2 separate regions of the Homo sapiens genome follow, and region 2 is linked to region 1. Evidence: fine-mapped expression QTL. A gene starts in region 1. The other region holds a variant in brackets. All regions are shown on one strand. Distances are between the middles of the regions.

Region 1 (2,908 bases):
ATTTCAGCTTCCGTCTTTAAAAGCTGAACCTCGCCCCTCTCCCACATCAACATGAATCAATTGCCAGGCACCTCACAAGTCTTAGATGAGCCGAAATTTAAAGCTTTCTATTAACCTTTACTTAACCACTGGCCACCTTCCTTCCTACATAAGGTGACAGTGTTGTCTGTAGAGGGTTCTAGCTCCCGGCTATGTGGATTTGAAATCCAACTGTCACTAACTGTGTGACCTTGGTTAAGTGACTTCATCTCAGTTTCTTCTGTAAAATAACAAAAACAAAAAAAATTGCAAATATCTTGCAATGGGTGGGAGAATTAAATGAAATCTGTCTTAAGTGCTCAAAGAATGCCTGACACACAGTAAGCGCTTTAGAAGCGTCAGTTATGATTACAGTAATAATTCATGGACGCAAAGTGCTTAAGACAGAGCCTGGCACATTGGAAAGATAATGATAGCGTCAGCCTCGTTGGCTTCCTCTTCAGATGCACGCTCAGGAAAAGAGCGCGGAGACCTCTCCAAGATTAGAACAACTTAAAAGGATTTGGAGGGCAGGCGAAGACAGGTTCTCACACCTCTTGAGACATGAACGCTTGTTACCAAGTAACAAGAAATGGGCCCCCCAAGACCCCAGAACCACGAAAAATAAAAATAAAAGCAAGCAGGAAAAGAGCCCCCAAACCCGGCGGAACTCATGCCCTCATCAAACTGCCTTCCGAGAGGACGAGCACCGAAAAGTCCATCTCGCACAGCACGGCACACGTCGTCCAGGAGGCTGGACTGGGATCCCCAACCATCGCTCCAAAGACCCGTCCAGTGCGCGGGGGCAAACGGGTAGGGGCGGGAAACGTGGGGGTGGGGAGCGGAGTTTTCAAATTCCACGGCCGGGAGGAAGCCTGCATCCTCGTGCAATGAATGAGCGGAGCCTGGAGGGTCCGCAGCTGGCGACAAGTTGGGAATCCCGGGCTGGCCTCCCTCCGGCTGCAGTCCCCGGCCCGTGGGCCAACTCGAGGAGCTCACTCCCCACGGTGCTGCAAGCCCAACCGGCCTCCCAACTCCCCTCCCTCGAGCCCCCGGGGCCGCCTGCCGCCCTCAGGCCCGCCTCCCCCTTCAGCCGCCCGCCGCCCCCCTTACCTTCCAGCAGCCGTTGGATAATGCTGTCGATGTTGAGTTTATCTAAATCCGCCATCGCCTTCCCACCGCCGACCCTCCCGCAGCGGCGCCGCCGCCGGCTCGCGCCCGGGACTCACACCTCCTTTCCCACGCCACGAGCAGAGGCGGTGGTGGCGGCGGTGGCAGCAGCCGCGGCGGGTCCCCCCCCTGCCACCCCGCTCCCTACTTCCTCCTTCTCTCCCCACTGGAACCACGAGAAGAACAAAATGGCCGCCGACTCCTTAGACAGCCTCGGGCGGCGCACGGATGCGCGCGGGGAGTGCAGCGGCCCGGCCGGGACTTCTTTATGGGCCATAGGGGGCGCGGGAGGGGGCGGGGCCCGGGCGCTGGAGGGGGCGGGGCCCGGGCGCTGGGCGGGGCGCAGATGGCTGAGCGCAACCGCGTCCCCGCATGGGATCCTTCCGCCAAACGGGCCGAGTAAATAGGCCCGCCCCCAATGCCGGGCCCGAGCGAGAGTTGCAAAGTTGCACGCGGGAGTTGGGGCTGGGGGAGGAAATGCAGCTGTGCACACCGCCGGTTGCGGCCATCGCCGGATCTTGTGCATTGAGTCTAGATGTTTGCAGACCTGGACAGGTGGGAGCTCACCGAGGGATTTCGGGGGTCCTGGAACTTACCCTTTAAGATAAATCTGGGGTGAGGATGGAAAAGAATAATAAAGAAAAGAAGGTTGACTTATTTTGGATTCAGATATACTGGAACTTGGGACAAGAGAAAGGTTTATTTGGTAACTAAAAAGAAAAAACCCTCTTTCAGATAAGTCAAAATGTAACAGTTAACTCATTGTGAGTGGTGGGTATATGGGTATTTGTATATATATTTTTTGTGCACTTCTGTAACTTTAGGGGTAAAAAATCCATACTCAAAGAAAATTTTATCATTTCTGTCCCTTGGATTTATCTTCCCTGAACTCGGAAAGTTATGTAATCATCGGGACGGTTATCCCGATTCTAGCCAGGGCAAAGTTGAACGAGCGCGTGCAGCAGTTAAAAGGGGAATTTGCAGATTTCACGCGTGCAGGCCGGGGGCGGGAAGAGAAGATGCAAGCTGCGCGGGCGGTCCTGGGTTCTGCAGACACCCGAAGAAACTTTGGCCCATTCCTCTCTGGCTTCCCAGCCTCCCCGAGGGCACTCCTATCCAAGGGGCCCCCAAACTGTGCCACCTCCAGGGGCTGCGCGTCGACTTTGGCTGGGTTTGGAAGTACAGCCCACACTCAGCAAACAGATCGGCTCTCTTTCCTGACCTTTCCATGTACGTTGCTTCCTGCAGCGCTTTACATTTTGCAAAGCCCCCTCTCTCCGAGAAATTCATTTTGTTTCCCAAGGCGTGCAGGATGCACGAATCCCCATCTCAGTATGCCACGAGGTAATTGCACCACCCAGGCATCCTCTTCCAAAGCAATGTCCTCAGGGTGCGGGCTCCATGTCCCCTTACTTGGGCCCCCTCGCTACTGGTGCAGGGCCCTTGAGTTTCAGAACTCAGCCTATCGATCCACTTTCCTCAGGCACTAACTCACTTTCCCCTGCTACAGCTCTGTCCACCAGAAGTCACATAAGTGCCATTTGTCAGGCCAAGGCAATGAGCCCAGTTGGTGACATTCGGAGTTGGTGCCCAGCGCTGCTGTGAACATCTGGCTATGGAGGTCAGGGGGGGCTCTTGCTGGAGTCCACAGGACTTTGGGCTACTCCAGGGCAGGGTGCATCATCGGAATGGCATTTAGGGTAGAAATATGAAAGACAGC
Region 2 (2,908 bases), 33 kb before region 1:
AATCCTGCTACTTGGGAGGCTGAGACAGGAAAATTGCTTGAATCTGGGGTGGAGGTTGCAGTCAGTGAGCTGAGATCGCACCACTGCACTCCAGCTTGGGTGACAGAGCGAGAGTCCATCTCAAAAAAAAAAAAAAAAAAGAAAAGAAAAGAAAAATGTCAAGTGAGCAAGTGAGGATTTAAAGTCTAGGTTGATACTGCCCCAGTCTACCAGCAGAGGCAAACTCTGATCTTCTCTGGAGGAGCTCAACTTCAATTCAGGCCGCAGAGAATCCCATGGATAAAGATGTGAAGAAAATGGGCAACTCTGTCAAAAAATCACAACACACACAGAGAAACAACTATGAGGAACAATAGAAACAACAGATGATAGAAACATTCAGAAGAATGGCAAAACCCCCCACAAAAACACACAAATGATAGATACAAACCCACAAACACTTCAGATATTGGAATAATCAGATAGAACATAAAATAACCATGTTTATTATATTTAGAGAAATAAAACTTTTTTTTTTTTGAGACAGAGTCTCCCTCTGTTGCCCAGGCTGGAGTGCAGTATCGCGATCCCGGCTGACTACAACCTCCACCTCCCGGGTTCAAGCAGTTCTCTGCCTCAGCCTCCCGAGTAGCTGGGATTACAGGCATGTGCCACCATGCCTGACTAATTTTTTGTATTTTTAGTAGAGATGGAGTTTCACTATATTGGCCAGGTTTGTCTTGAACTCCTGATCTCATAATCCACCCACCTCGAGCTCCCAAAGTGTTGAGATTACAGGCATGAGCCATGGTGCCCGGCCAAAAAACGTCAGACCAGAAGGCCATGGGGTCAAATAATTTTTTTTTTTTGAGACGGAGTCTCACTCTGTTGCCCAGGCTGGAATGCAGTGGTGTGATCTCGGCTCACTGCAACCTTTGCCTCCCTCGTTCAAGTGATTCTCCTGCCTCAGCCTCCCCAGTAGCTGGGATTACAGGTGCCTGGCTAATTTTTGTATTTTTAGTAGAGATGGGGTTTCACTATGTTGGCTAGGCTGGTCTTGAACTCCTGACCTCAAGTGATCCACCCGACTCAGCCTCCCAAAGTGCTGGGATTACAGGCATGAGCTACTGCGCCTGGTCAAATTTTAAAAGTTTTAAAAAGATTAGCAAGAAATAATAGATAATGAAGAATGACCAAGTGGATTGTGAAAAACAAAAAACTCCAAAATAATAATAATAATAATAATAATAATAATAATAATAATAATAAAGGAAAACAAAAAACCCAATAGAACTTGAGATAAAAATGTAGTAATTAAAATTAAAAATTCAGTGCATGGATTAGATTAAGCACAACTGAAGAAAAAATTAGTAAACTAGAAGATAGAGCTGAGGACATTATCAAGAATGCAAACCATAGGGAAAGAGATGGAAAAAAACAAGATGTTAAAGTGAAATGAAAGACAGAATGAGGTCTAATACACCTCATTATATTTCCCAAAGAGAATAGGAAAAAGGGCAAAGATAACCTCTAATATTAATAATGCAAATTAAGGCCAGGTGCAGTGGCTCAGGCCTGTAATCCCAGCACTTTGGGAGGCCAAGGTGGGCGGATCACCTGAGGTCAGGAGTTTGAGCCCAGCCTGGCCAACATGGTGAAACCCTGTCGCTATTAAACATTTCAAAAATTTTCAAAACAAAAATATTTTTGTTTTGAAAAACAAAAATTAGGCTGGGTGCGGTGGCTCACACCTGTAATCCCAGCACTTTGGGAGGCCAAGGCGGGTGGATCACAAGGTCAGAAGAT[T/C]GAGACCATCCTGGCTAACATGGTGAAACCCCATCTCTACTAAAAATACAAAAAATTAGCTGGGTGTGGTGGTGGGTGCCTGTAGTCCCAGCTACTCAGGAGGCTGAGGCAGGAGAATGGCATGAACCCAGGGGGCAGAGCTTGCAGTGAGCGGAGATTGCACCACTGCACTCCAGCCTGGGTGACAGAATGAGACTCTGTCTCAAAAAAAAAAAAAAAAAAAAAAAAAAAATGCTTGCTGGGTGAGGTGGCTCATGCCTGTAATCCTAGCACTTTGGGAGGCTAAGGTGGGCGGATCACTTGAGCTCAGAAATTCAAGACCAGCCTCGGCAACAAGGCAAGACCCTGTCTCTCTAAAATATAAATAAAAATGTTTAGGCCGGGCAGGATGGCTGACGTCTGTAATCCCAGCACTTTAAAAGGAGGCTGAGGCAGGTGGATCACTTGAAGCCAGGAGTTCGAGACCAGCCTGGACAACATGGTGAAACCCCGTCTCTACTAAAAATACAAAAATTAGCCAGGCATGGTGGCATGTGCCTGTAATCCCAGCTGCTCAGGAGGCTGAGGCAGGAGAATTGCTTGAACTCAGGAGGCGGAGGTTGCAGTGAGTGATGGTGCCACTGCATTCCAGCCTGGGCGACAGAGTGAGACTCTGTCTCAAAATAAAATAAATAAATAAATAAAAATTTTTAAATGCTGAAGGAAACTGTTTACAGAAATACATATATTTCTCTTTCTATGAAGCTCAAAAATTGCCTGGTACTGTGGTTTGCACCTATAATCCCAGCTACTTGGGAGCCCGAGGCAGGAAGATCTCTTGAGGCCAGGAGTTCCAGACCAGCCTAAGCAATATAGCATGACCCTGTTTCTATAAAAATAAATAAATTGGCAAAATTTAACAGTATATTGCTTAGGGATACAAACACAATGAAGAAAAGTAAGGAAGTGATTACTTTCAAATTCAAGATCATGGTTAACTCTCGAGGGAGATGGGTAAGTATGTAACTGGGGAGGTACGCACACGGGCTCTTAAGTTATTGGTAATATTCTACTTCTTAACCCAGGCGATGGGTATGTGGGTGTTTTATGTATTCTTTTGTATTAAGACATTTCATTTAAAAAA

The links. PIP is the estimated chance that this variant, and not a neighbour inherited with it, causes the effect.
Region 2: its variant is the best candidate, but not a certain one, in a credible set for the expression of PPP1CC in whole blood (INTERVAL, PIP 0.60).

The regions. Positions count from the first base shown.
Region 1 is chr12:110,741,522-110,744,429 of GRCh38, forward strand. PPP1CC (protein phosphatase 1 catalytic subunit gamma) reads right to left here and starts at 1,370. Exons shown (of 7, transcript NM_002710.4): 1 at 1,132-1,370. The coding sequence starts at 1,186. RefSeq lists enhancers at 1,095-1,603, 2,365-2,908 and silencers at 1,241-1,300, 1,461-1,600.
Region 2 is chr12:110,708,729-110,711,636 of GRCh38, forward strand. It overlaps a transcript of PPP1CC not described here. Among named protein-coding and RNA genes, the nearest start is that of HVCN1, 21 kb to the left of the region's middle. The variant T/C (reference allele first, on the strand shown) is at 1,786.